6 linked regions of the Homo sapiens genome follow. The protein of the gene in region 3 interacts with the protein of the main gene of each other region in a pairwise test. Each region holds a gene or a part of one and is shown on either strand. Other genes may lie near its edges.

The links.
Region 1: the proteins of SMYD1 (region 3) and C11orf16 interact in a two-hybrid assay, tested with the Homo sapiens proteins (one large-scale study listed by BioGRID and IntAct).
Region 2: the proteins of SMYD1 (region 3) and CCDC33 interact in a two-hybrid assay, tested with the Homo sapiens proteins (one large-scale study listed by BioGRID).
Region 4: the proteins of SMYD1 (region 3) and OGDHL interact in a two-hybrid assay, tested with the Homo sapiens proteins (one large-scale study listed by BioGRID and IntAct).
Region 5: the proteins of SMYD1 (region 3) and POU2AF2 interact in a two-hybrid assay, tested with the Homo sapiens proteins (one large-scale study listed by BioGRID and IntAct).
Region 6: the proteins of SMYD1 (region 3) and CFAP263 interact in a two-hybrid assay, tested with the Homo sapiens proteins (one large-scale study listed by BioGRID and IntAct).

Annotation. Positions count from the first base shown.
Region 1 is NC_000011.10:8,929,422-8,935,158, forward strand, and holds the start of C11orf16 (uncharacterized protein C11orf16), read right to left. Parts: upstream 3,527-5,737; 5' UTR 3,480-3,526; intron 2,906-3,479; 5' UTR 2,888-2,905; coding exon 2,721-2,887; intron 113-2,720; coding exon 1-112.
Region 2 is NC_000015.10:74,329,533-74,334,281, reverse strand, and holds part of CCDC33 (coiled-coil domain-containing protein 33), read right to left. Parts: intron 4,094-4,749; coding exon 3,928-4,093; intron 3,620-3,927; coding exon 3,531-3,619; intron 3,302-3,530; coding exon 3,170-3,301; intron 3,080-3,169; coding exon 2,986-3,079; intron 1,604-2,985; coding exon 1,437-1,603; intron 1,062-1,436; coding exon of another isoform or gene 960-1,061; intron 402-959; coding exon 315-401; intron 1-314.
Region 3 is NC_000002.12:88,074,325-88,077,824, reverse strand, and holds part of SMYD1 (histone-lysine N-methyltransferase SMYD1), read right to left. Parts: intron 1-3,500. UniProt on the Homo sapiens protein: Methylates histone H3 at 'Lys-4' (H3K4me), seems able to perform both mono-, di-, and trimethylation. Acts as a transcriptional repressor. Essential for cardiomyocyte differentiation and cardiac morphogenesis.
Region 4 is NC_000010.11:49,733,524-49,739,297, forward strand, and holds the end of OGDHL (2-oxoglutarate dehydrogenase-like, mitochondrial), read right to left. Parts: intron 4,740-5,774; coding exon 4,668-4,739; intron 4,550-4,667; coding exon 4,424-4,549; intron 4,336-4,423; coding exon 4,263-4,335; intron 2,998-4,262; coding exon 2,834-2,997; intron 2,655-2,833; coding exon 2,500-2,654; intron 1,829-2,499; coding exon 1,705-1,828; 3' UTR 1,118-1,704; downstream 1-1,117.
Region 5 is NC_000011.10:111,282,910-111,287,677, forward strand, and holds the end of POU2AF2 (POU domain class 2-associating factor 2), read left to right. Parts: intron 1-1,166; coding exon 1,167-1,468; intron 1,469-2,743; coding exon 2,744-3,145; 3' UTR 3,146-3,492; downstream 3,493-4,768. UniProt on the Homo sapiens protein: Transcriptional coactivator of POU2F3. This complex drives the development of tuft cells, a rare chemosensory cells that coordinate immune and neural functions within mucosal epithelial tissues.
Region 6 is NC_000016.10:58,255,582-58,260,672, reverse strand, and holds part of CFAP263 (cilia- and flagella-associated protein 263), read right to left. Parts: intron 2,306-5,091; coding exon 2,150-2,305; intron 820-2,149; coding exon 739-819; intron 1-738. UniProt on the Homo sapiens protein: Component of centriolar satellites contributing to primary cilium formation. In complex with CFAP263, acts as a regulator of ciliary beating that connects radial spoke 3 (RS3) to the inner dynein arm (IDA) and the nexin-dynein regulatory complex (N-DRC).

The sequences.
Region 1 (5,737 bases), on a different chromosome or scaffold from region 3:
TTCCCTTCTTGCTAGGACCCATGTGTTGGCAGCATCTCCAGCTCTTCCCAGCCAGCCAGGCCCCTGCCATGCTGGGTCGGCAACGTGGAGACATGGGCAAGAAGAGGCATGCCTGGAAAAAAGCAAATGGAATTAGTGGATAGAGAGCAACAAGCCCTAAACACATCAAGAAACACGTTTCGCAGGTACATCTGAGGTACACCACAGCACATGAGGCATGCGGAACAGAAATCCATATGGAAAGTGGCAATCTATGACTTCCGGAAGGATAAGGTAAACCTCCGGGAGGGGCAGAAGGAGAGGACAGTGAAGGGAACCATCCTTGGTGGATTGGGAGTTGGTTCAAGGCAACCAAAATGTAATTCGCCTTGATACATTCAAGTTAATTGATGCTTGTTCCTACACTAGACAACAGACTGGAAAAGTGTGGCTCAAGCCTGTAATCCCAGCACTTTGGGAGGCCGATGTGGATGGATCACTTGAGCTCAGAAATTCAAGACCAGCCTGGGCAACATGGTGAAATCCCATCTCTACCAAAAATACAAAAAATTAGCTGGGTGTGGTGGTGTGAGCCTGTGATCCCAGCTACTTGGGAGGCTGAGATAGGAGGATTGCTTGAATCTGGGAGGTAGAGGTTGCAGTGGGCTGAAATGACACTACTGCACTCCAGCCTGGGTGACAAGGTGAGACCCCTATCAAAAAAAAGAAAAGAAAAGAGTGCCAGGGGCCGGGAGCAGTGGCTCACACCTGTAATCCCAGCACTTTGGGAGGCCGAGATGGGCGGATCACGAGGTCAAGAGATCGAGACTATCTGGACAACACGGTGAAACCCCACCTCTACTAAAAATACAAAAATTAGGTGGGCGTGGTGGTGGGTGCCTGTAGTCTCAGCTACTCAGGAGGCTGAGGCAGAAGAATCGCTTGAACCCAGGAGGCGGAGGTTGCAGTGAGCCAAGATTGCGCCACTGTACTCCAGCCTGGTGACAGAGCGAGACTCTGTCTCAAAAAAAAAAAAAAAAAAAAAAAAAAGTGCCAGGTAGGTCAATCCTAAGGCGGCGTGTGGGATTCCAGGATGAGGCGTGGAAGCTTGGATAGTAATGCCGAGGGTGTGAAATTGTAATGCCACTTGATGCTGTGGGGTCAGAGGGATGAGGAAGTGTTTGGGCAGGGACAACCCAGAGGAGCTAAGGGGCTGTGGGACAGAAAAAGGAGATGCTAGTTCCAGAAAATGTTGTGGTCAGGGCCAGTTGGCCTAGGGGAGTTGTTGAGTCAGGGTTTGGGTTTTTGAAGAAGCCATTTTACTTTGTGGGCAAGGCTGAATGCAAAGGGGGCCTGTCTGCCTCCTGCTGCCATCAACATGCCGTCACTGCACCCAGGCTGTTCGTGCTGAGGAGCTCCTGCAGACCCATGCTGAGCTGCCCTCAGCCCCCCTCAGCCTCCTTCCTGTGCTTGTTGGCATCTAAAGTCCCATGCTTAACTCTAGCCTTGAACAGGATGGTCCACCGGGTGGATCACGAAAGGGAGCCATTAAGGATCTTTCAAGCTGGCATGTCCCTAATGTGGGCAGAATGGATCAGGCAGCAGGAATGCGAGTCCCTGGAGATGACACGCTCCACATGTGTATATAGGGCTGTGGTGCCTTTGGCCTCTTGTATCCACGCTTTAGAAAGCAGACTGAGGATCCTATTCAGGAAAATCCTGGACAAAGGAGGGGTACCGAGGGAACCTGAAGAGGGACCTGGAGACCCCACATTAGCTGATTTCTCATATGGTGGCTGAGCAAGTCTCTTTTTTTTTTTTTTTGGTTTTGTTTTGTTTTTGAGACAGAGTCTCACTCTGTTCCCTAGGCTCGAGCGCAGTGGCGCTGTCTCGGCTCACTGCAACCTCTGCCTCCCGAGTTCAAGCAATTTTCCTGCCTCAGCCTCCTGAGTAGCTGGGAATACAGGCATGTGCCACCACGCCCAGCTAATTATTGTTTTTTCTTTGAGACAGAGTCTCACTCTGTCACCCAGGCTGGAGTGCAATGGTGCGATCTCGGCTCACTGCAACCTTTCCACCTTCCGAGTTCAAGCAATTCTCTGCCTCATCCTCCTGAGTAGCTGGGATTACAGTCACCCGCCACCATGCCTGGCTAATTTTTATATTTTTAGTAGAGACGGGGTTTCACCATCTTGGCCACGCTGGTCTCGAACTCCTGACCTTGGGTGAACCACCTGCCTTGGCCTCCCAAAGTGCTGGGATTACAGGCATGAGCCACCATGCCCAGCCAATTTTTTGTGTGTTTTTAGTAGATGGGGTTTTGCCATGTTGGTCAGACTGGACTCGAACTCCTGACCTCAAGTGATCTGCTTGCCTCGGCCTTCCAAAGTGCTGGGATTGTATACAGGTGTGAGCCACTGCGCCCAGCCAAGTCTCAGCATTGATGGTAAAATGAGCTATAAACTTGGTAACTGGCTATCCCTAACTGCCTTCTCTTACTCATGCCAACTGCAGCATCTGCAACTCTGCTAAAGCCAGATCAACCCTGGAGGGCTCTGGGAGCACAATGTAGGCTGGAGTGACAGACCCCACACAGATATGCCAATCATAGGCCAAACAATGACGACCCCTTTCCACCTTCTCAGGAAGCAAGTCTGTCCACCAAGGTCTACCACCAACAGCCAAGAACAAAGGAAAAAGAAAAGGGCATCCACTTCCCCCAGAGGGGCAGAGACAGGTACCTTGCAAGGGGCTTGTGCCCGGTGAGCCAGGGTGCTTGGAGGGCAAAGGGGTAGGTGAAGGAGAGGTCCCAAGGTGGAGCAGCACCGTCCCAGCCAGGGGCCTTCAGGCTTGTGGCCACGCTGCAGTATTTGAGCAAAGGCATCCTGGGCCCCGTGGAGGATTCCATGGCCTTCAGAGGATCCACCTGAGAATAGGCACCACCATTACCTGAGCTGCAGCTTGAAGCAAGCAGTGGCCACCGGGGCGAGGCAGGGCTCAGCTCTGCAGTTAGCTGCCTCTGGGGACAGTTGAGTCCATGCACGGCCCTACCTGCTCCCACAAACTCTCACAGTTTCCTCTTTGAGTCACCTGCCTTGGGAACCTCCACTCAGGAAACAGGGAAGGGATTGGAAGAGCAAGTGCTGTGAGTTTAGAGCAGCCCAGCTTTAAATCCTCCCCTACAGCCTGCTGGCTGTGTGCTCACTTAACCTCTGCTCTCCAGTTACACTCAGGATAGAATACATGGAAAGCACCTGGCGTATTCAGCAGCTCAACTTATGTTAGTATTTTTCCTCCTTCCTCCTCCCCGGCCACCTACAAGGCTAGTTCTGGCCTCAGGCAAGCTGAGATCTCAGGGCCGTCCATCCCCTTTCCAGCCCTGTTCAGAGGAGACAGCTGCCACCAGGGCCCAAGATCAAGCCGCACTGCTGCAGCCCACCAGAGCCCCGTGAGGGTCTGCCCCTGCCCAAGTCCACAGGTCTGACCCCACAAGGACTTACCCACAGCCCCAAACTCCCAGCCTCCACCTCAGCCTCAGGCTCCTTCTGACAGTTGGGGCTCAGGGTCTCAGCCCAACCGACTCCTGGTTGCCACGCCGGTTACCATGGGTGCAGCCTGGGGACGCTGTCGTCTGTGGCCAGTGAGTGCACCGAGCATGCGGAGAGGGGGACAGGAGGCCTTGGGAGGTAGGGGTGGGGCAGGAAGTGATGGGGGAGGGGGTGTTCTCCAGGTTTCCCTTTGGAGAGAAGAGGAGGAGGAAGAAGGGAAAAAGGCCAGTGTAGCCTCAGTTCTCCAAAGCTCAGGCTGCTCCACTGCTGGAAGAGTCAGTGGTGGTGGGAAGCCCTCACGGATCCCAGGAGACTCCTGTGAGGGAGGAGCCACCTCCGCAGAAACTGAGGGCGTCCTCCCTGTACACACTAGAGGCAGGAATGGGGGAGCCACTGGCGGCCTGGGGACTCTAGGATAGAATTTGTCCCTAGTCTAAACCAAAATAACCAAAGGTGTGGGCCTGTTTGTCTATAACAGGCAGGACTCTGTTGAGGAGCAGAGGTGTTGTGACCATTTGGAGTGAGAGGTGTGGACACTGGCAACAAAGGAACAGAAGTCCAGATTCTGCTTGTGGGAGGGGCTCGTATTTGGAGGCCTCTGCCAGTCACTGTGCACTGGTTATATGCCTGGTATGCAGGCACGTTTGGATGTGTCTCCCCCACATTCATACCCCGCTTCTACCAGGTCCTGTTTCAGTTGGCAGATCCATGTGGATAGGGAGGCCAAAGTACCCACCTCCAGGGGTAGAGTGGGTGTCAGTCACCCCTTCCATCCCCGTCTGGCCCCAGGGGTTGGTCAGGCAGTGGCGTGTTCCTGAACCTCTCCAATCAGCAGGAATCTGGAGACTTTGGTTGGGAATCCTGGGATATAGGCTTTCTCTTTCTTCCTATGCCTGAATAAGAAAGCTGATAGTTCTGAGAGCCTCTGACAGCCTTTTGGGAACACTGAAGCTATTCCCAGAGAAAGAGAGGATAGACCTCAGGAAATAGAGGGTTGGTTGGTTTGTTTGTTTTGAGACAGGGTTGCCCAGGCTGGCCTCAAACTCCTGGGCTCAAGGGATGCTTTTGCCTCAGTCTTCCAAGGAGCTCGGACTACAGCCATGCACCCCAACGCCCAGCTGAAAATAGGTTCTCGGTGACAGTACTGAGTCCTGCCTGCAGGCAGTGCTGCTACTCTAGGCCTCAGCTCTGTGAGCCAATAATTCCCCTTATTGATTATGCCACTCTGGATTGGGCTGTTTCTTACTTGCAACCAAAAGCCTCTTAACTGATGACTGCCCTCCCGAAGCATCACTTCATAGTCAGGAGAATGACTGCTGCCCAGGACCGTATACCAAGGCGGAGTTATTTGGCACACAGAGAGTCTAAGAAAGACCCATGGCCGGGCGCGGTGGCTCATGCCTGTAATCCCAGCACTTGGGAGGCCAAGGCAGGTGGATCACGAGGTCAGGAGATCGAGACCATCCTGGCTAACACAGTGAAACCCCGTCTCTACTAAAAATACAAAAAATTAGCTGGGCATGGTGGCACACGCCTGTAATCCCAGCTACTCGGGAGGCTGAGGCAGGAGAATCGCTTGAACCAGGGAGTCAGAGGTTGCAGTGAGCCGAGGTCGCGCCACTGCACTCCAGCCTGGGTGACAAAGAAAGACTCTGTCTCAAAAAATAAAAAATAAATTAAAAAATACCCGTGAAGTCTCTGGCAGTGAAAGAATGATTCTTGAATGAGACAGTGGGATTTCAGTGGAGGAGGGGAAAAGGAGAATATTCTAGTTTAGGTAGGAAGTAAGAGAGAAGAGAGAAGGATACATTTGCGAGACTGTGATTTTCTGTTTGGGGGAAATGGGTTCAGCACATGCAAAATCACATTGAACTTGCTTAGGAGTCACATTAAAGCAGACTCACATCAGAGTGTGGGTGTGAGAGTAATCCTGCTTATAGATTACAGAGGCATCATCGCTAATCCCATCAGATGTTATCTTACATATAGGAAAAGGCCAAAACTCGGGTCATTTATCTTTTAAGGAATGTAGTGACTCAGGCAGGAGATGACGGGGTGGAGGAGGGAGAGGGGCGTGTACTCTGTCCTGTCGTGTCTTCAAAGCTTCTTTCTGAAGAGCGAAAGAGCTGCCTGCGGTAAGAGTCAGGGGCTTTGTGAAATGTTGCTGGCAAGGAGAAATGAGAAAACACGGCTTCTTATGTTTGCTGCTT
Region 2 (4,749 bases), on a different chromosome or scaffold from region 3:
TCACACACTGAACCCTAACCCTGGTTGTACACTGAACCCTGACCCTGGTTGCACATTGAACCCTAACCCTGGTAACACACTGAACTCTAACCCTGGTTGTACACTGAACCCTGACCCTGGTTACACACTGAACCCTAACCCTGGTTGTACACTGAGCCCTGACCCTGGTTGCACACTGAACCCCGACCCTGGCCACACACTAAGCCTTGATCCTGGTCATAGATTGAGCCTAGACTCTGCTCACACACTGAGCCCTGGTTATAGGCTGTGTGGTGAGCCTGATCCAGCCTCATCAACTCCTGCATCTCACCCACCTGGCTTTCCAGGGACAGGATCCGGCTCTGAGCGTGTTCCAGCTTGGCCAGGAGGTTGAACTTGTCTGAAGTACCAGAGAGGAGATCCTGTGGGCAAAGCACAAACTCACATTTGGCCCCAGCTGGAGGCTGTGGCAGTGTGAGCTTGGGAAACCATAAGGTATTGAGGAAGAAACCAGTCAGGCCTGAGTTCAGACTGAGCTCCCGAGGCAGAGCGTCAGACCTGGGCCGAACCCTCTTCTGGAAGTTCAGAACAGGGTCTGGCATGTGCTTTTTTCACAGCTGTTTCCCACACAGATTTTGAGAATACGAAGTTTTGACACAACATTTTTTTTAATGTAAAATGCATTAGGGAGCCCCCTATAATTAACGCACTGGGAGTCTTTGAGTGAAGTGAAGAACCTGTGAGGCAGTTGACCTCATCCCTCACACTTTACCTGGATGTCCATGAGTCAGGTGTGCTTTCAACAGAACTCACCTCCGGCGAGTCCTGGGATGGAGAGAAAACTCTCCTGTGCCCCTGCCCTGCCCAATATTCTGTGATTCCAAATGTTCTGCTTTGGGGTTTATGTAAAGCAAGGGGCCCCTGAAGCATCTTCAGAGGTGGAGCAGGGCCTGGGCATTTCTGGGCCCTGGGCCACCCACCTGTGCGGGCAGGGTCTCTGTGCACTCTGAGTGGCCTGGGCCATGCGTCTCTTGTAGCCTCTCTGTCAAGTCTCCTCCTGCTCCCAACTCCCCGGGGTCCACCTGGGATGGAAAAGGGCTCTCCAAGGCTGCACCAAGACCAGGGAATGCTCCAGAAGGGAGTTTTGAGAGGCCTGTGTAGGGTCCAGGTGGAGGCCAGCCAGGTGAAAAAGGGGTCAGGGTTCAGGGACCAAGGGTCAACAAGGGGCTTGCTTTCTCCTGGGATGCTAGATGAGGTTAAAGGTGAAGTGTTCGGGGACACACATTCCGCAGGAGAAAAAGACCAAGGCCTGAGAGCTGATTCCAGGAGCCCCCAGGCAGACTGGAGACCCTGGGAAGCTTAGCTCCTGGTCTTGATCTTCAACTTGGGTTGTACCATGGGTGATTTCTGGGCACCCAGTGACCGGCATAGGCAGGCCCAGGTCAAGGGCCTCTTACCGGCAGGGCCTGTTGCTGCAGAATGATGGGGGCCTGCTGGTGGCGGTTCTTATCCAGCTCCGTCCGCAGCTTCGCGTTTTCTGCCAGCAGCACCGAGTAAAGTTCAACCGGCAGGTTCTCTCCCATAGAACCCAAGGGAAGGCCAGAGGCTGAGAGCATAGGGAAGCCTAGAGACACGGCCACAGATGTTGGTGAGATGGGCTCTCCTGCTTCCCATGTCCCTGTCCTGATCTGCTCCAGCATTTTGCTTCAATCTGCCACCCCTCCCCTCTACTCCCAAGCCTTCAATGGCTCCCTACCACCAGTGGGATCAGGTGCACACAGGCTGTCCTTCTAGGCTCTTTAGAACCTGACCTCAACGTTCTCTCTAACTCCTCATTTGTCTTCAGTGTATTTCAGCTCCTCACCTCTCTCTCTTCCTCCCTTCTCTGATCCTGGAATTCTTCTCACTCCCTGGGCCTTTGATCTGGCTGTTTCCCCTCCCTAGGTTGCCTTCTCAGTCTCATCCAGACTCCTGGATGACCTCAGGCTTCCTGAAAGGCCAGCCCAGCTTTCATTGCATTCTAAAGGCTCCTAGAAACACCCTCCTGCCCCTGAGACCCTCAGCGGTGAAGGCTAAGCACAGGGCTGGGCACACAGGGGCCCTGGGTGAGGTTGCACAGGCAGGCTCAGGGAAATCCCTTGCTTTGGGCTGGCCTGATATGGTGTTACCTGGTCCTTTCTGCTTATCAGAGGCTGATTGGCAGTTTTAGGTGGCTTTTGGTTAATATCGATGGGGAAGAAAACCTCCAAATCATTTATTTATTTATTTATTTTGAGGCGGAGTCTCCCTCTGTCACCCAGGCCGGAGTACAGTGGCACAATCTTGGCTCACAGCAACCTCTGCCTCCTGGGCTCAAGTGATTCTCCTGCCTCAGCCTCCCAAGTAGCTGGGATTATAGGTGCCCGCCACCATGCCCAGCTAATTTTTGTATTTTTAGTAGAGATGGGGTTTCACCATGTTGGCCAGGCTGGTCTTGAACTCCTGACCTCAAGTGATCTGCCCTCCTCGGCCTCCCAAAGTGCTGGGATTACAGGCATGAACCATTGCGCCTGGCCCCAGATCATTGATTTAATCAAAGTATTTTTGTTTGTTTGCTTTGCAGAGGCAGAATCTTTGGCGGTATGGGGAAATAATTCGACGGATCCTGGGGCTAGGAGCTGGGAAGTGTTGCCCCAGGTGGCCCTTCTTCAGGGGAAGGCCCTCTCTGCTGTGCTAGTCTGCAGGGCCCTCCTCTGGAGGTCCACCCTCTTTCTAGCCTGGCTCACACTGCATCCCAATTGTGTTCTGAGGGGCTTCCAGGGAAGGAGGGAGCTCAGGGGATCTCTGGATGGGGCGCCTGAATGAGGAGGGGAGCAGGGCAATCCTGGGTCTCCCAGGCCCACAGACATAACTGAGTGCAGGGGACCTCTTCGCAGGTTCTCCTGAAGCTGAGAGGCTCCAGGAAGGCAGGGCCTCCAGGGGTGGAGCAGAAGCTGGGGAGCTGATCACATCAGGGTGTGGACCCACCCGTGTAGGGCTTTCCCTGCTGCCTGTTCAGAGGAGGGGGCTTGCTCCTGTCCTGCAGCCTGTCCTCCAGCACCCGCTCCATCTTCTCGATCACCTGGAGAGCAGAGCAGAGGCTGGGCTGGCCCAGGGGCTCCCTACTCTGCCATCATCAGTTGGCCTCGGGGGCAGCCCCTCTGCCACCTGCCTTCTCTTGGTGCCGCACAGTCTCCTCCAGCGCCTTCATCTTCTGCAGCTTGCCCTGGTACTGCTTCAGCAGAGCGGCCTGTGGCTGCTGGGCCTGATACAGAAGGAGCAGCTCCTTCTCTCGATCATTCTTCTGTGAGATGGGGGAGGAGAGAAGGGGAGAGAATGGGTGCCTGGGAGTCCACCTTGGCCCTGAGGGTCCACCTCGGCCCCTCTGCTGAATCCTCCACCAGGCTGGTCCCCCTTTCTTCCGTGCTTCCATTCCCTCTGTGCCTGTTCTCCCTTCTCCTCCCAGACTCTTCTCACCCCGATGCTCCCCCACCATAGCTCCCTCCCCTCTGCCCCCACAAGCCCCAGCTCACTCGAATCAGCTCATTCTGCAAATGCTGCACCCTGTCCCTCAGTTTCTTCATATCCAGCTCACTCAGCAGCAGTTTCTGCTTCATGGACACTGTTAGGTGGGTTGGGGAGCTGGCTCAGGGAGGAAGCCTCTCCCAGCTCAAATCAGCATGGTCAGTAGCAGGAAGGCAGATATCCCTTGGCCCGAGGGCTTGGGACGGGACTGGATTCTCTGTTTCCCATCCCTGAGAGGACCCAGCTGGGCAGGGACTGTGTGAGTGTCTGTGGGCGAGGGGCTCCTATTTGCCAGAGTCCAGCAGCATGCACATCTGGGAGAAGCTCCCAGCCACCCTATTGCACAACCTGGAGCCTGGGCCCAGGCAGAAGCCCGGGTGCCCTTGGTGGCCTGCACATCCTCACCCGTGTTCTGGGCCTCACTGGCTTTGCCCTGCCCCTCTTCCTCCTCCTGCTGGGCCAGGCGGCTCCTCAGTATGCGGTTCTCTCCTTCCAGGATGCTGGCCTGTCTCCGCAGAGACAGGATGTCCTCTGCCATCTTCTGCATGGCCCGCCGGTAGTTGTTCATCTCCTGTGGATCCCAGAGCCCAGAGCTGAGCCCACTGCCCCATAGCAACCCTGGTCCCACATCCACATCTACACTTGAAAGTCAGTGGGTCCCCCACAAGGCCAGTGAGCACCAGGAGCCCCAAGCCATGGCCCTAAGTCTTAGCAGCTCCCTGGAAGGGTGGTTATGACTTGATCCTCACCCATCCTGGCCATGTGAGGGCAGCCACACTAATGTTCTCTCCCCGGGGCCACATCACGTCCTGTGATACCAACTCAGGGGGAAACCCCAGGTGTGGACACAGGGGAGGAGGCCTATGGGCAATGGAGACTTGAGAAGATCCAGGGCCAGGTTTGCAGGGTCTGGCTCGATCATAGCTATTTCTTCACCTTTTCCCTCCTCCTTCCCCATCTTCTAACTCCTCTCATTCCTCACGTCACTGAGAACCCAGGGAAGAACCTCTCAGAAATCCCACTGGATGCCACTTGGAAGGTGACTGGGCATCAGCCCTCCAAACAGCTCAGTAGTCAGAGGACCCAAGGTCACCCTGGGAGACCCAGGTTAGAGCTTAGTGGAGGCTGGGATCCAGCTACAGGATGTGGGGTATGAGGTGGGGCTGGGGGCTGGAGTCAGCCATGAGGTCAGGAACAACAGCAATCCTAATGTCTGATGCTCATTGA
Region 3 (3,500 bases):
TTGAACCTGGGAGGCGGAGCTTGCAGTGAGCCGAGATCACGCCACGGCACTCTAGCCTGGGTGACAATGTGAGACTCCGTCTCAAAAAAAAAAAAAAAAAAAGAAATGCCCACCCCTCCCCTGCCTTACTGCCCCTAGTGCAGGAGAGTGTCCAAATAACATGAAGTCCTAAAGCCACTTTTTGGATTCCGAGAAAGAGCATTTGTCCCAGGCAGTCTTAGCTGGGTGACCTTCAGCAAGTCTCGTTTCTCCCGAGTCTTACATTCCTATTCACACAAGAAGGTATCAACTCCCACTTACACAGCACTTTGCCATTTCAAAGAGATGTTTTTAGTGATTCGTTTTTTTAAAAATCTTCACAGCAACCCTTTAGACTGGCCGAGATCATTATCCTCACAGGGATATTATTCTCTTAAGGGTCCCTGACGCCGGACGCTGCTCCCAGCACAGAAGGCGGGCGGATGCAGCTACAAGGCCCACCTGCTTGGCCTGCAGCCTTGAATGTGCCCTGCTCCAGCAGCTGGTCCCCTCTCACTCTGCTCTGCAGCCCTGCTGGACTCTGTGATCTGTCAGAGTGAAGAGGGCTGGAAGGGCAGCTGCTGCTCAGCTCCTTGTATGGAAATAGTTGCTCACGGACAGATAAATGCAAAGACAAGGTGCCTGCATGGTGGGCAAGCCCTCCAAAAACTCAGCCAGAGAGGACAGGACCAACAGTTCAACCGTTCTGTCTTTCAGGGATGCTTACAAACTCCCAGCCTGCCAGAAGGTCTCTCCTCAAAAATTAGAGGGAAGTGTCTTTTTTTTTTTTTTTTTGAGACAGGGTCTTTCTCTGTCCTCCAGGCTGGAATGCAATGGCATAATCACTGCTTATTGCAGCCTCAAACTCCTGGGCCTAAGCGACCCTCCCACCTTAGCCTCCCAAGTAGCTGGGACTACAGGCACATGCCACCACGCTTGGCTTGTTTTTATTTTTATTTTTTTGTAGAGATGGAATTTCATTATGTTGCCCAGGCTGGTCTCAAACTCTTGAGCTCAAGCGATCCGCCTGCCTCAGCTTCCCAAAATGCTGGGATTACAGGCGTAAGCCTGCTGTGCCCAGCCTGGGGTAGGTGTCTTAAAGAACATCCCATCCCTCAAGTACCCAGATAACTTCACAATATTTTAAATTCTTTTTCTCATTCCTTCTTCTTTTCTTCTTTCCCTCTGTCTTTCCTTCCCTCCCTGCTTCATTCTGCAAGTATTTATTGAGAATCTGTTATGTGCATTGAGCTAGGTAATAGAGGGCCTTAAAAGATAAAGGAAGGCGGGGCGCGGTGGCTCACGTCTGTAATCCCAGCACTTTGGGAGGCCGAGGCAGGCGGATCACAAAGTCAGAAGATCGAGAACATCCTGGCCAACACGGCGAAACCCCGTCTCTACTAAAAACAAACAAACAAAAAACAATTAGCTGGGCGTGGTGGCGGGCGCCTGTAGTCCCAGCTACTCGGGAAGCTGAGGCAGGAGAATCGCGTGAACCCAGGAGGCGGAGCTTGCGGTGAGCCGAAATCACGCCACTGCACTCCAGCCTGGGCGACAGAGCGAGACTCTGTCTCAAAAACAAAAAAGATAAAGGAAATACCGACTTTGCCTTCAAGCAGTCCCCAGGCTGGGATGGGACATAAACACATATAAACAAGGCAGGACCCACATTCCACAAGCATGGTAACTTGCTGTAAGTTTCGAGGAAGAGAGACTACTTCAACTGAGGTAGGAGAGGCAATCTAGAAAGGCATCACCTACGAGATGAGGAGGCATTGTTCTGACCTCGAGAGATAGGCTGAGTTTGTACTCAGAGAAGGTTGAGGTCTTCCAGAAAGAGGCACTGATAGGCAAATGTGTCGGTGTGGGGGTGTACATATAGGAGACAGAGTTAGCCGTTGGATGAGATCATGAGATTCATGTTTGCACTGACTATTAAATACCTTGACATAAGAAGTCAGTGGGGGCTGGGGTAGTGGCTTACACCTGTAATCCCAGAACTTTGGGAGGCTGAGGCAGGAGGATCACTTGAGCCCAGGAGTTTGAGACCAGCTTGGGCAAAATAGTGAGACCACTGCCTCTACAAAAAACAAAAATAAAAAGTAGCCAGCCATGGTGGCAGGCACCTGTAGTCCCAGCTACTCCAGAGACTGAGGTGGGAGGATGGCTTGGGCCCAGCAGGTAGAGGCTGCAATGAGCCATGATTGTGCCATGACACTCCAGCTTGACCAACAGAGTGAGACCCTATCTCAAAAAAAAAAAAAAAAAAAAAGAATTAAAAGGTACTGTTTCCTTGGATCAAGCCTGGAGATTGTCAATTTATTTTTAACATCCCTTTTTTTATTAAAACATCAATTCTCAAGATTTTCTCTGCCACAGCTCACACACCCTACTAAGACCTGTATACATTTCCATGGCCTAGCTGAAGCACCCCCCTCAATTCATGTTCAGAACACATCCTGGGATGCGAGTGGGTAAAGATAGCATCATTATGGGGACAACCTGCCATTTGATCTAATCCATCTTTAAAAGGCAATCATTCTCAGACTTCTGGATTTAAGAATTATTGAGCAATATTTAGCAATACAGCTCACAACAGGTTGTGTAACATGTCGACATGTCTTGCCTCTGCAGCTAAAAGTGCCAAATGAAAAGCAGAATTCTAAGTCGACTGTGGTTATTCTCAACATCCAATGCAAACATTTAAGGCTGTCACTTGAATAGTTTAGCACTTACTCATTTTCTGAACTAATTGTTCCGGAATTTCTCTAATCCTTTTATTAAATTATTTCCATTTATAGCATCATTTATCCCCCAATAACCAACCACCAGCTGTTATCAGATTAAAGGCCACATGTGTGTTTGTGTGTCTGCCAGGGCTGATCCTGCCATTCCCACATGCTCACACAGAATTACACTGACTAACCCCACCTGCTCTGCCGCACCTAAGAAAGCTCATAACTGGTTCCATTTTCAAAAAAAGCCTGGTTGACAGTAATTTATTTACAAATACTCAACTTTTTCTCATGTTCCCCACTATCTTTTTCCCTATATACACACTATATATACATAATCTCCGGGTCACTTTCAACTTTGTAACCAGAATAATTTAGAGACTGCTCAAGTTTTTATTTAAAGAACTTTTAAAAAAAAATCCACTAACTGTCCTTGCTCCTTCTTAACATATTTTGTGATGAATTGGATCAATCTAGAAAATTCTTTTTCGTTGGGGTAGACTGAATAATAGCCCCCCAAAAATTGTCAATGTCTTAATCCCCAGAACTTATAAATAGATTACATTACATGGCAGAGGAACTTTGCATGAGTGATTAAGTTAAAGACCTTGAGACAAGGACAGTATCCCAAATTTCCTAGGTGGGCCTAATGTAATTGCAAGTCCTTATAAGAGGAGGCAGGAGGTCAGCAGGGAACAAGATGTTACACTGCTGGCTTTAAAGATTCAGGAAGGGGGCCATGAGCCA
Region 4 (5,774 bases), on a different chromosome or scaffold from region 3:
TCACTTTATGTCACTTTGAATGTCCCTGTGGTAGGATTCAAAGTATATCTCAACAAGACATACTCTGTTTTTTTTTTTTTGAAACAGAGTTGCTCTGTCACCCAGGCTGGAGTGCAGTGGCACGATCTTGGCTCAAAGCAACCTCCGCCTCCCAGTTTCAAGCAATTCTCCTGCCTCAGCCTCCTGAGTAGCTGGGATTACAGGCACGTGTCACCATGCCCAGCTAATTTTTCAACAAGCTATTTTTGAGGCTGATAAAACTTAACACTCCACTGTCCAACCTCACGCTGATCGTTCTTTTAGGTTGCTCATGCCAGCCCTATGGTCAGTATTTCTGTCTGTTCCAGAGAGGTTCATCTCTCTTTTCCTCTTCCTTTGAACACCACCTCTTCCAGGGATCCTTCCCTGACACCCACAGCTGTCTGCATTGACTTCCAACATAACTCGTAACTCAATGAATTAAACAGCTGACATGTCTCCCCACTGGACTCCCGATGCGAAAAGCCAGCATGCAGACAGATGCCTTCCACCCGGGCCCTAGTGTCCCGCACGGAGGAAGTGCTCTGAGAAGGGGATAAATGAACACATGATCTGTTCCAAGCAAAACATCCCTCCTCTGTGGCAGCTTCTCCAGTATCTCCACAGGGAAGCAAAACCCACAAAAGGCCAGAGTGGAGAAGCCAACAGACACTACCTGGTGCTCAAATGAAAATCTGGCGTAGTGGCTCACACCTGTCATCCCAGCACTTTGGGAGGCCAAGGCAGGCGGATCACTTGAGGTCAGGAGTTTGAGACCAGCCTGGCCAACATGGTGAAACCCCGTCTATTAATAATACAAAAAAATTAGCCGGGCATAGTGGCGCATGCCTGTAATCCCAGCTACTCAGGAGGCTGAGGCAAGAGAATCACTTGAATCTGGGAGGCGGAGGTTGCAGTGAGCCAAGATCGCACCACTCCACTCCAGCCTGGGTGACAAGAGCCAAACTCCGTCTCAAAAAAATATCCATGGAGGCAGATATTTTCTTCTCTCCATTTTTTTAACTTTCTCCCCATTCCCTACCTTCTCTCAACTGCCTATCCCTCCCCCAGTTTTACAACATGAAATGAAAACAGCAAATCTCTCTGAAGCATGTTTTTATTTCTCTGTGATTTGGTTTTCTACTTTGGTACACATGAGCTGTGGCTGCATTTCACACAGAAGCTGACACATCTCGCAGGAATGCCCCATAAAACAGAGCGCAAACAAATCACCCAGCAGGTTCGCTTCACCTGGCTGTTACTGCTGAACTCCCTACTTCTAAGAGCACAGAAGAGAACATCGCTTTGAATCTACAGATAAGCGAGGGTGGGGCGAGCAGCAGCCAGGGCTGCCGGGATGGGAGCGGCCACAGACACAGGCCCCCGGGTGTCTGTCTTGAGATACAGGTGGAGAAGCCGCCCAAGAAATTCCAGCAAGATGGGAGCAGCTGGGGGATGCTCCAGCACAGTAGCCTGCCTATAGGACTCCTCTGGCTCCCTCAGTCCTGGTAGATTCTGGCATGACACCAAGGCCAGCAGTGCTGGCTCTTGGCCCTGTCACTGTGTCTGTTTTATCCTGGGGCCCCACAGCCCCTCTCCTGGGCAGGAGCTCCGCCCCTCCCCTTTTCATCACCCCCTTGGTCCCCAGCAAACCCACAGCGAGACCTACACAGGTTTTGCCCAGCTCTAAAATGTCTTGCCCTCAAAGGCCTGGAGATTGAAGGCAGTATCCAGAAACTTCTTCAGTGACACCAGGTGAGTGTTCCTGTTTCCTGTGGCTGGTGCAGCCGCTGGGTCCCGGCCAACATACCTGGAGGAGGAGAGACAAGCTAAGGGGAAGGCGGGGCCTAGCCGCCCCCCAACCGCTGCCCTCACTCCGGGACTGCAGGGGGCACGCATCTGAGAACCGCTGACCTCGAAGCCATAGACCCTGCCTTTTGGCCCTGGCACCACTTCCAATGAGCTGCAAAGCCCGGATCAAACTCAGTCACCTAGCCACAGAAGAGTGGGGAGAAACTGTCCCTCCATGTCACTGCACTTGCCCATGAGGACAACAAATGAGGCAACAACTCAAAGACTTTGGGGACAAACATACTTTTGGCTTCTTGGAGTTTCTCAGGACCCTCTCCCATCTTCCCAGGAACACATGATGCCAGTATTGGGAACGCACCATGTGCCAGAGCTAATACATACATCAGATCTAATCTTATCACCGCCCTTTGTAGAGATGCAGGGACTAAGGCTCCAAGGACTACATAACCGGCCTAAGATCTAAGGCAGGAGTTTTGAGACATGTAGCAGGTTCCTTAATACAGTTCTGGCTGCAGAACAAACACAAAGCCAGTACTGATGATGCCCCATCATTGCTCATCACCAGAGAAGGGCAGGGCCAGTTCTGGGTAGCATGGCCTATGGGACAGATGGAGCCAGGACAGAGCCTCAGGGCCGAGGTGAGGGGCAATCAGCGGCCCCACCATGTACCATATGGGCCGTGCGCGCCTCAGGATGGTCATGAAGCGTGGGCTGATGTAGTCATAGTAGCCCATGTTCTTGTGCTCCTCCTGACACCAGGCCAGCTCCGCACCTGGGTACTTCTCTGCCTCCTGCTTGATCAGGTCGAAGGGGAATGGAGAGATCTGGGGAGGCAGAAACAAAGGAGCATAGCCAGAGGAGGGGCGGTATGTCCCCAGCACCCCCGGACAGGAGGCACAGGGCCTCACCGGCCTTCATCTGGCCTGCCTGGCACATTGGCCAGAGCCGGGGCCAGCGACGTGAGCTTGCCCATCACTTGACTGTACAAGGGGTTCAGGCACACCTGCTCCAGGCGCGTGATGGCCACTTTCTCCTCCAGGTCCTGGCTGCTCCGCTCCTTCACCAGGTCATAGTACACCTTTCCCGTGCAGAAGATGAGCCGCTGCACCTGCTCAGGGGCCCGTGCTGCGGCCCCATCTTCAGGAATCACCCGCTGGAAGCTGGTCCCTGAGGGACCAACAGGACATGGCAGAGGCGTTGGTACCCAGAGGGGCTGGGGCAGCTCAGGACCAGGCCTGCATCCCCAGGCTCTCCTTAGCCACTGACACTAACTGCAGGTTTGGACTTGTGGCTGCAGTGGACACCTCTTGAACTAAAAGATGGAGCAGGGGGCAGATGACACCCTGAGCTGTCATAGGGAGAGGGGTGGAGACACCCAAGGGTTGAGCCCTGGAAGCATCACGTTTAAGGTGACCGGAGGTGGGGGTACAATAAGAAGCGCCCTGAAGGAGACAGAGAAGGCAACATGATGGCATCATCCTTTGCCCCAACCTTGCTTCTGCCCAGCTGCGCCCACCTCCTGCAGAGCACTGCAGTCCCCCACCACTAAGCAGATGTCCCAGGAGGCTGCTGCATGCTCCTCCTCTTTCAGCCTGGCAGCTGAGCTTCACCTCCAAGCCCCAACCATTCTTCCTTCCTGAGCCCATGATCCTGACCCCAGGTCACGCACACTGCAAAACCTCTCAGGAAGCTACTGTAGTGTCCTCACATCCCTGCATCTCAGGTGAAGACTCTGGGGTAGAGAGGACAAATGGATCCCAGGCCCTCAAGAGAGAAGCCAGCACAGGGCAGGTAGCCCAGGTAGTCCAGTCCCGACATCAGAGCTCTAACAGCTGCCCACCTGCACAGAGGGGACATCCAAACACACATGGGAGAAAATCCAACCCCTGTCCATGCTGAGGCCCTTCCCAGCCCTCCCTCTACTGCCCAGGACCATTTTCCAAGACAGCTCTGCTCCACCAGCCTCACACCTGTCCTTCCCTGGACATAGTCACCTCTCAGTTGCAACTATAGTGTTTTATCTGATCTGACTCCCAGGGAAATAAGGCCAAAGACTCCTGGAGGGGACACCAGGACCCCAGGGCCTGTAATGTCTGTTTGGCTCATGAATTTTTAAAATGGACAAATGAATGAATGATACTCAATATCTTGCGAACTCAGCAGGCCTCTGCCAGGCCTCGACCAGCCCTGCTAGGGTCTAAGGGGGCCCCAGTGGACTCTACCATGGACGCAACCCACATGACCTGAGCTGGCCCAGGTCAGCCATTGTGCCAACCTCCCAACCCTACTGCTAGTGGGACCATGCCAGGAGCTGCTGCAGGTCAGCAGAGCCACAGGCAGAGGGGAGGTTGGAGAAGCCCCAGAAGCAGAAGCCACACAATGGGCCACCGCCCCATTGTGGGCTACCCCACACACCCAGGCCAGGCACGTACCGGATACCATTTGGTCAAAGCTGGACTTGGCCTCTGGGTGCCTCAGCAGAGATTTAGGTGTGAAGATAATCAGCTGGAAGGGAAATACACGCCCAGCTGCCAGCTGGCCCTGCCTGGCCAGGCCCCCTGCCTGTGACCCCTGCCCTGGGACGGAGACTCACCGGCTTGCGGAAGGGCAGCAGGATCTGCCGGCGCAGCACGTGGAAGTAGTTGGCCGGTGTGGAGCAGTTGACCACGATCCAGTTGCAGTCATAGAGCTGGCTCACCTCGAAGTCCTTGGTGAATGCCTGTGGGGACGAGATGCATATGGCCAGGGTGGCTGTCTGCTGCACCCACACCCTGGACCCCTAGCCCTGTGGGCACAATAGGGCGCGTCCCTGTCCTGGGGACAGCAGCAACACTCACAGGGTAGGCATCCGAGTCATCATTGCTCATCTGCAGGAACCTTTCGGGCCTCGCTGACGAGTGCTCTGGGCCCTGAAAGCAAACGCCAGACAGCCAAGGCTGGACCCCACCATGGGAAAGACATCTGGCCCTGCAGGGACCCCAGGCTCAGGGGAAAGTCTGGAGGGCTTCTCAGCAGAGGTGCCCTCACCCTGGAGCCTGAACCATAGAAAAGAACCAAGAATGTGGAACAAGAGCAGAATGGGAATCCTCAGAGTGGGGTCTGCCCAGAGCTAGCACAGTATGTGAACTTGCAGGGACAGAAGAAAAAGCAAAAAGCCCGCACTGAGACGTGCTTTCTCTGGAATGTCCTGGAACAGTGGCTGCCACTGACTGAGCACCTGCTGTACAGGAGGCAGAGTTCTAGGAATCCCACACGCCTTATCGCTAACCCCCAAAGTAGCCCCATGATGCAGACACTCTTCCCCACTGCACAGATGAAGAGGCAAGGAGAGGGTAAGAAACCACCCATGACCACACAGCCAGGCAGGGGCCAACCCAACTCGGCCTGGGCCTCGCCCACCCTCACCCACACGGACCGCTCTGCTCCATGAAAGCAGCAAGACAAGCCCAGGGGCATCTCCAAGCCAGCTCCTGCAGGACGGGGATGACCCACTGCACAGCTGCCACTTGCCCTCTCTTGGTGGGGACGGCCAAGGACCCAGCCCCCCACACCCAGCCTGGCCCAGATCTGGCCTCCCAAGAAGCTGCCTTCACGGCAGGCAGCCCCAAGCAGGGAGCCTCACCTCCCTCCTCACTGATACCCGGTGTTGTGAGGATGCCGAGTATGCAGCCTGTAAAGTGCTCATAACATGCCACTCAGGGATAATGGTGGCAATGAGCCCCCTGCCTGTCTCCCTTCTGCCTGGTCAGGCCACCTGCCCACCAGATGGTATCACATGACACCCTGCTCCTTCCTCCCTTCCTGCTAGCCCAGGAGCCTCCGGAGGATGCACCCAGCCTGCATGTCTTCCCTCTGCCCCATGTGTGGCTGCAGAGGCAGGTCATACAGGAGGGGACCAGAGAACAGGCAGTACTGCACAGGATAGCTTCAAACCCCAGCTACTA
Region 5 (4,768 bases), on a different chromosome or scaffold from region 3:
TGTTTTCTGCTACAACTGAGCTACGGGGTCAGAAAGTGTTGAGCAAACACACCTTTTTCCTTGGAAACCATTTCACTGCTGGGCTTACCTTAAATGAAGCTCTTATCAGTTTCTGTCCCTCCCTCTCTCCACCAAGGAAAACTTTTTACTTTTTTTTTTTTTTTTTTTGAGACGGACTCTTGCTCTGGGCGAGATCTCAGCTCACTGCAACCTCCACCTCCCGGGTTCAAGTAATTCTCCTGCCTCAGCCTCCTGAGTAACTGGGACTACAGCAGCTGTGATTACAGGCATGGTGGCCCAGCTGATTTTTGTATTGTTTTTAGTAGAGATGGGTTTTCACCATGTTGGCCAGGATGGTCTCAATCTCTTGACCTCGTGATCCGCCAGCCTGGGCCTCCCAAAGTGCTGGGATTACAGGTGTGAGCCACCGAGCCTGCACCACCAAGGGAAACTTTATGTAGCCGGCACTGTCTTCCTAAACGTGCTGGGCCCTGGTGAGTTGAGTGAAGGAGTCCATGAGGCCACAAGAGGGCAGCAAATAACATAAAACTCATCAAAACCCTAAAACTACAGGCCTCTAAAATTGGCTTCTGTGTGGCCATCTAATCCTAAAGAAAGTCATTTATTGATGTCTGCCAGGCGTGCGACCCAGTGTAAGGTCAATGTGTGAAGAATTAGAAGGCAGAGTACAGCCTGCCTCTTTGAGGTGGGGTTATATGTGTTACCTTATCCAGACATAGCGATCTCAGATAACAGGCCAGGAGCACCTCTTGTTAACAGTTCTATGTATATGGAGAGGTAGCTCCGATGTTGTGAAAAAGATGCTTCCTTGGTTAAAATATGAATGCCAAGAGATTATTTCATTTATGTCTTCCTAGCACAGCGCCGGTCACCGGGAAGGTACTCAGTAAATGTGAATGAATGAACAGACACGGTACTGTCTAAAATGAACTCACCCCTAAAGGCGACAATGTTTTCAAACGTTAGTTATTTGGGCTAATGCAGGAATATTTCACGCTTTTCAAGACATTTCTCTATTTCCATGTTAGCGTTGGAGTCAGGCACGCGTTAGTAACATCGTTTCCCAGGCAGAGACTCAGCTGCAACCGAGGCCTTGACCGCCCTGGGAGGAATTTTCTGCCCATGTGTTTTTCATTTGGCAACAGGTTCGCCGGTCACGTCAGGTTACTACGGTGTCAGAAGATCTTTCTTATCTGACTCAGACTTCCACAACAGTAAACAGTTTTCAAATGACGTCTACACCTCCAGCGTGGGGAAGCCGTTTCCCTGTGAGTCCTCCGCAGGGCAGAGCCATGCGGCTCTCCTGGAGCCCTACTTCCCCCAGGAGCCCTACGGAGACTACCGGCCTCCGGCGCTGACGCCCAACGCGGGCTCTCTGTTCAGCGCCTCGCCCCTACCGCCGCTCCTGCCACCGCCCTTCCCCGGAGACCCAGCTCACTTCCTATTTGTGAGTATGCAGAGACCTCGTGTGAGGGAGTAAAAGAGGGGCGAGGCTCGCCCTCTGGCCAGCCGCTGTGCTTGGCATCCGGGTTGAAGCCAGGTCTGGCTCACCCTGTAGACTCCAGAGGCTGCTTTGCAGCTGCCTAGAGATGCCAGGACACCCTCCGAGGGAGCCTTGTTCAAGGATCCCTGTTAGCCATGACAGCCAGGAGCGTCTACGCAGGGCTTGGAACCGGGAGGAATGTGCAGCAGGATTTATATCCATTTTGTTAATGCTCTACTGATATTGCCTGATGTTCCCCCACCCTGTTAGTGCCAGTCGTCATCATTCCTGCAGCCCCTAAGGAAGGAACACTGAAGCTGCATCTCAGACATGCTAGGCAGTAATGAGATGGATCATAATCTCCCAAGGAGGGTACATAGGGCTCCTCTTTCTTTCCAAGTCCCCTGCCTCCCCTTCCCCACATTTTTAGCCTAAAAATCCTTGTTCTCTCTCAATCCTTCCAAACAGGTGAGTTCATAAAGATCTGAAGATTGCTAATGCTCATAGAGAATAGTAAAGGTTTCTACCACAAAGTAATGAAGCTCTAAAGACAGGAGTTTAGACAAAAGGGAGAGGATGAGAATTCACATTATTAAGTATACTCTATGCCAGGAAATGTGATGTGTTCATTCAATACTTGCAACAACTCAGGATATATTTATGAAAGTCCCATTTTACAGATGAGCAATGTCGGGCTCAGAGTCAGGAGGAGCCACGAATGAATCCAAATCTTTCTAGCTCCAAACTTACGGGATTCCTACCTCTTTCCTCCTGCTTTAATGAGGACAGAGTGGGCTTCTCAGTCCCCTCAAAAATTCACCATGGAGTTGAAGGCCTACTCCGAGGAGTGGGCCAAGCGCTGACCTTCCCCACTGTGTAAATGGCATTCTAGGACCCAGACTAATGGGAGACTCAAAAAGAATCCAAGACAGAGTGCATTGCACACAGTAAAATGTTGCATACATGTGCATTTTATTAGTCTCACATTTCACTCATTTAATGTTGTCTTCTGGGAAAAGGAATCTCAATATCTATAGCAAATCTAATTCTAGAGTAGGAAGGGAGGAAAACTTTCACTGCTGGTGTCAAAAGCCGGAGAGAAGAGCAGCCTGAGAGCCAGGCTTCAGGCAGCAGAGAGAGGGGACGAAGGCTGCCCTGAAGCCACAGTCTGGCAGCACACAATGTATCATCAGAGTGTCACCTAGTGAATAACCTCCGTGGCCTTTCCATTCTCCTCAGAGGGACTCATGGGAGCAGACGTTGCCTGACGGTCTCAGCCAGCCTGACCCTGTGTCTGCCGATGCCCTGCTGACCTTGCCACCCAGCACGAGTTGCCTCTCCCAGCTTGAGTCCGGGAGCATCGCCCAGCACAGGGGCTCAAGCTGGGGGTCATCCCTGGCTGGGGCTCAGTCATACTCGCTGCATGCTCTGGAAGATCTGCACCACACTCCGGGGTACCCTACCCCGCCTCCTTACCCCTTCACCCCTTTCATGACGGTGTCAAATGACCTACCGCCCAAGGTGGGGCCACTCTCCCCAGATGAGGAAGCAGACACCGGTTCCCTCCATGACCCTTCCCCTTGGGTGAAAGAAGATGGGAGTATTGCCTGGGGGTCATATGAATGCCGCAGAGCTTATTGAGGGGAGGGCCAAATGACTTCTGGGTTTTTCTTTAACTTGAGGTGTATTCCAAAGATTGTTTTAGGTGTGTCAGCCCATTCAGGACTGGATTTTCAGAATAAGCCTCAATGCTGCTCTTTGTTAGTGGACGAGGGCATTTATTTGTAATCCTCTCCACTGTAACCCCACTGAAATAAAACAGAATGTTAATTAAATGTGTCAGAGACCGTATTCTAGTAAGATAACCTTACAATGTGGTCTTTTTGGAACTGTTGTAACCCATTACGTTCTGAATCTTCTGTTATCTTTGAAGTATCATTTTTGGCACTGATTTTTCTTAAATTACATTAAAAAGTTTATGCAGATCATAAAAGATACTGATTTTCCTGTCAGATGTTTCTTAGTTTTAAACTATGTGTATTCTGCAGTAAAAGACACTGGATAGGATATAATATAGATATGACCACATAAAACTCATTTTATAGCATGTGACTTGAAAGAGTGAAGTGTTTCATATACATATATTTATGGCTTATTATAGTGACTTGTAAAACCCCAGTTAAAAAAAAGGTACAATCTATAAATATGTTATTGTCCATAAAATAGGATGAGATCAGGAAACTATGGCTTTGTACATAACAAAGTTATTTTTTGACTCTATCCTAAAGCCCAGAATGTCCCCAAATTAGTTCAATCCAAAAAAGTCCAAAAATTTTCTTTGATCAGTGATGGCCTTAATTAAACCAGACATTGTCTCTCTGATGGAATAAACCTACAGTTATCAGCATGAATGAGTAAAATAGGCATTCTGTAATCAAATGGAAATTTTTTTTTTTTTTGAGACAGGGTCTCACTCTATCACCCAGGCTGGAGTATAGTGGTGTAATCATGGCTCACTGCAGCCTCAATCTCCTGGGCTCAAGGAATCCTCCTACTTCTGCCTCCCAAGTAGCTGGGACCCAGGTGTATGCCACCATGCCCAGCTAGTGTTTTTATTTTTTACTTTTTTTTTAAAGTTTTTGTAGAGACAATGTCTTACTATTTGCCCAGGCTGGTCTTGAATTATTGACCTCAATCTATCCATCCACCATGGCCTTCCAAAGTGTTAGGATTACAGGCGTGAGCCACCACACCCAACCAAATTCATACCCTTTAAAGAAAATACAGAAAATAGGACTAAGCTGTTGGCAAGAAACAGACCACAAAACACCAAGAAGCAAAAGGACTTTGGAGAAGGACATATTGCCATGTGTGAGCCGATGGCTTGACAAACAGCACCTCCTATTTGGTGGCTTACTAGTCGGAAAAGTGCAGCTCTTACTATGTGTCAATGAAGATATTGACATCTGAAGCATGAATCTGTCCACATTGGATTGGTGTGGGTTCCTTTGCTAATTGGGTTCCCAGCATAATTCCAGCATGCCTATCTGCGGCCAAGCTCATCATACATGCCTGGTATACACTGAGACTTTGCAGATGCATGAGTGGAGGCCCCCGGGTTGTACCTGCACCCTTCTTCTTAGCTTCCTACCACCTGTCTTTCTGCACTTCATTCTCACATCTTTTCCACCCTCTGGTCCCTCCTGATCCAATGCCATTTCTCTCCATCTTCTGGAGGCCAAGGCCTTCATTTTCCCTCTAGTT
Region 6 (5,091 bases), on a different chromosome or scaffold from region 3:
AGGAAAGGATGGAACCATGTTTGCCTTACTGCCTTTCATCAGGAGCCATTAGGGTCAGCTGATGGCGATGCTAGACACACCAAAGCACATATAACTGTGCCACCAGGCCATATTCCCAGAAAGGGCCAACAAGTATGTCTTGAGGGTCTTTTAAATTCACGCCAACTCTGTCTACAGAAAACCTCTGATTTGCCTGCACAGTCATCATATGAGTTTCCTGTTGCTCCTGTAACAAATCACCACAAACCTCGTGGTTTTAATGCAAATTTATTATCTTACAGTTCTGGAGGTCAGGAGTCTGAAATGGGTTGGGAGGCTCAAATCAGGATCTCAGCAGGGCTGCATTTCTTCCCAAGGCTCTAGGGGAGACTCTGTTTCCTTGTCATTTCCAGCTTCTAGAGGCTGTCTGCAGTCCTTGACTCCTGACCCCTTCTCCCTCTCATGAAAGCTCATCACTCTGATCTCTGCTTCTGTTATCATAGCTTCTCCCACCCTCCTGCTTCCCACTGATAAGGAGGGAGATTATATAGGGCCCACCCAGGTAATTCAAGACCATCTCCCCATCTCAAGATCCTAAATTAATCACATCTGCAAAATCCTTTTTGCCATGTAAGTTAATGTATTCACAGATTCCAGGGTTTAGGATATGGATATTTTGGGGTGGGGGTGGGAACCTTATTCAGCCTACCACAGTAACCTTAAAAAGAAACAGAGAGAGAGAGAAAAAGGACCACATACCTGCCTCAATTGTAAAAGCATTTTTTTCCTCTGAACTTTGAGAGAAACATTTTTCAAACGTAATTTCTCCTTCATATTATCCTAAAACATAAAGGCATATTTTAATGCATTTAATCCATTTCTCTCCTTTTTCCCATTGGTTTGAAAAGTGGATGGTTCTGGGGCTGCAAACCAAACCTTGAGCCCTAACATTCTGTCACTTATTTTAGGTCCTTTTACTTCTACTCAAGCTGGGGCTGGTATGACATTTCATGACCAAGAAGCAGAGGACACTGGTTTTGCACCATGCAAATTTTATATTGCTTTCAAATTCAAGATTATTTGGGTGTATGCTACTGTAGGGGCCTTTCCTGACAAAATGATCTTACGATTTTTTGGTCTTGTATTCCCACGGTAGTTTACATAATTTTTATTACTGTTAACATATTAGGATTAGTAATAACCCTACCTTGTCTCCAGGATCTAAAGCTTGACGTGTTGTAAAAATCTCTGGAAATGAAGGTTACCCCCCAAATTCTCCTTTTTTCTCATAACAGCCCAAGGTCCATCTCCTGATAACAAAGGATCTCAAAGAGCTTGAGATTCACCCAGTAATCCCAGCACTTTGGGAGGCCAAGGTGGGTGGACTGTTGGAGCCCAAGAGTTCAAGACCAGCCTGGGCAACACAGTGAGACCTCATCTCTATAACAATTTTTTTAAAGGTTTTTTTAAAATTTTGAAAAAGAGATTTACCTGTCCTACTCCACAGTCACCTCTCTAGATAGGCTGGACCAGACCAGTCTCATACCTTTCTCAAGAAAATATATCAGATCTTGAAACAAATAACAAAACAAAAAACAGAGATCAATCTGAGGTACTGTTAGTATACCTCCTGCCTGGCTGGTGTTAGCCTTGATAAACACGCATTTATTTATTTATTTATTTATTTATTTATTTATTTATTTATTTATTTTTTCTGAGACGGAGTCTTGCTCTGCTGCCCAGGCTGGAGTGCAGTGGCATGATCTTGGCTCACCGCAATCTCCGCCTCCCAGGCTCAAGCGATTCTCCTGCCTCAGCCTCCCGAGCAGCTGGGATTACAGGCACAAACACCTCGCCCAGCTAATTTTTGTATTTTTAGTAGAGATGGGGTTTCACCATGTTGGCCAGGCTGGTCCTCCAGCTCAGATGATCCACCCGCCTCAGCCTCCCAAAGTGCTGGGATTACAGGCATGAGCCACTGCACCTAGCCATAAACATACATTTTAAAACATGCATATACACATACACTTTCAGGGATGCAAAGAAAATCCGCATATGTGGGCAACATTTATGGTGGACCAAAGGGAGCTAGGCTGCTTCACATGGATGATTTCCATAACATCCCTGTAAGAATGTTTTTTCCCTTTCTAAGCTCTGTCTGCCAACTTACCCTCCGGCGGTTCATGTCCTCAATGTATTTCATCACTTTCTGAGTGGCCAAAATACTCCCTTTCTTCTTGGATATGGCTTTTAGAATATCTTTTTCAAACTCATGCACTTCTCTCGAAACTTCACTCCATCGAATTTCAGCCTCCTCAATGATCGCCTGGGGGAGTCAGCACAAAGAGAGAAGAACGTTTCCAGCAATCTTCAAGGATGTGTCTTCTAAGAAAACCTAAGTTCCCAGGCCTCTTTGTGTCCCAAAATATTATGTTTCTTCTTAGTCTTAGGAACATATCCTTAAGATACAAACTTGACTATATCAATGTTATTAGTTAAAAGCATTCTTCAAAAAAATAGAATCCATAAAAAGAGAGCAAACAAAAACAGGTGTCAGGTATCTATCTTTTTTTTTTTTTTTTTTTTGAGACAGAGTCTCGCTCTATTGCCCAGGCTGGAGTGCAGTGATACAATCTCACCTCATTGCAACCTCCGCCTCCTCGGTTCGAGCAATTCTCCTGCCTCAGCCTCCTGAGTAGCTGGGACTACAGGCACCTGCCACCACGCCTGGCTAATTTGTGTATTTTTAGTAGAGAAGGGGTTTCACCAAGTTGGCCCAGCTGGTCTTGAACTCCTGACCTCAGGTGATCCGCCCACCTCGGCCTCCCAAAGTGCTGGGACTACAGGCATGAGCCACCGCGCCTGGCCAAGCTATCTATCTAAATATGTATTTCCATATTTGAAATTATTTATCCATTAAAAATATCTGGAAGGATATACATCAAAACATGAATGACAGTTACATCTAGAGAGATGGATTAGTGGGGAAATAAATAGGCACTCTTATTATATTTCTGTTATTAAAAAAAAAAAAAGACTTTATATTTCCAAGCCTGAGTATTGGGGGGAAAAATGGAAAAAAAAATAAAGAAGATATTATAAAGTCAGGTATGGTGCCTGTAGTCCCAGCTGCTCAGGAGGCTGAGGCAAGAGGATTGTTGGAGGCCAGAAGTTCGAGGCTGTAGTGTGCTATGATTGCGACCGCGAATAGCCACTGCACTCCAGCCTGAGCAACGCAGTGAGGCCCCATCTCTTAAAAATAAAAAAAAAGATGTTATAAAATGAAAATATGTATTGACGTAAAGAGATGTTGTTAAGTGAAAAATACAGTTTACAAAATAACATGATACTATTTTTGGAAGAAATTCATATATGCAGGCTGGGCGCGGTGGCTCACGCCTGTAATCCCAGCACTTTGGGAGGCCGAGGCGGGCGGATCACGAGGTCAGGAGATCGAGACCATCCCGGCTAAAACGGTGAAACCCCGTCTCTACTAAAAATACAAAAAATTAGCCGGGCGTAGTGGCGGGCGCCTGTAGTCCCAGCTACTTGGGAGGCTGAGGCAGGAGAATGGCGTGAACCCGGGAGGCAGAGCTTGCAGTGAGCCGAGATCCCGCCACTGCACTCCAGCCTGGGCGACAGAGCGAGACTCCGTCTCAAAAAAAAAAAAAAAAAAAAAGAAATTCATATATGCATAGAAAATTATCTAAACTGTAGGAGGTAAATGGAAAGTCAACAGAAATTACCTCTGAGTGGTAAATTGTGAATGTTTTCAAATGTTCTTTTAGCTTAACTGTATTTTTCAACATTCTACAACATAGATTGCCTTGAAATAAGAACACACACACACACATATTACTATAAAAAATAAAATGGAATGGTATCTCTAGCCAGACTGCAAATCATCCTAGTTCAGACTTTTTTTCTGAACACCAAGAGGCAAAAGCATTTTCACTGGCCGGCCTCAGGCTCCAGCCCCATCATCTCCACATGGTAGAACATCAACCCACCTGAAATGCTACTTTCAACACATTGCTCTCCTACTCAAGTATCCTCAGTGGGGTCCAGCTTTCTAAGACATCAAAGATAAACTCCTTGGCATGGCTGTCAAGAAATCATTGCCTTACTCAACCTGACTTCCTAAAGCAGCCTCCAAAGTAGCGTCTTCTCTAATCACACCGGCCTCCTCAATGTCATGCTTGTGCCCACCTCCACTGCCTTGCCCATGTCATTCTCCTTACCTGGGGTGCCCTTCTTTCCCTGTGCTTTAAACAGATGCCATCATTCTTCAAGATCATGCCAAGTCTCTTTTAAGCCCTACCTCCTCAACAAATTCTTTTTGACCACTCTAGCCCATACTGATCTCTGATCTCTGCACTTGATGCTCACATTGCACAACCTAGCGGGTCAGGATAATGCTACCACATCCCAAGCTCCTTTAACTTGCTAGAATTCAACAATGCATGTTTAGAAAGAGAGAGAGGAGGGGTGGGAGAGCAGGATCAGTTGATGTGATACAGACGGTTGCATCAATGGGAGACATGAGTCTACTGACTGGTCCCTCTTGAGACGAGTGTGATTCTGCGAATGCCCACATTTAGAAACAGAAAAATAGAAAACTTTAGAAATAGAACAGAAGTATCTACTTTTCATACAACATGGCTCTCAAATGCAAGCCAACAACGTCATCCTGTGGGCAACCGAATTAACAGTGATGTTTCTTCTCTGGAGGAAACTGACTGTATTGGACTCACTAAGAGACACTACTATATTGTTCTGTAACAGGGCACAAACCATGGGCACGTGTGCCGTATAGAAATGCTGACCTAGGGGCCGGGCGCGATGGCTCACGCCTGTAATCCCAGCACTTTGGGAGGCTGAGGCGAGTGGATCACAAGGTCAGGAGATCGAGACCATCCTGGCTAACATGGTGAAACCCCGTCTCTACTAAAAATACAAAAAAAATTAGCTGGGTGTGGTGGCGGCAGGAGCCTGTAGTCCCAGCTACTCGGGAGGCTGAGGCAGGAGAATGGTGTGAACCTGGGAGGCGGAGCTGGGATCGCACCACTGCACTCCAGCCTGGGCAACTGAGCAAGACTCCATCCCAAAAAA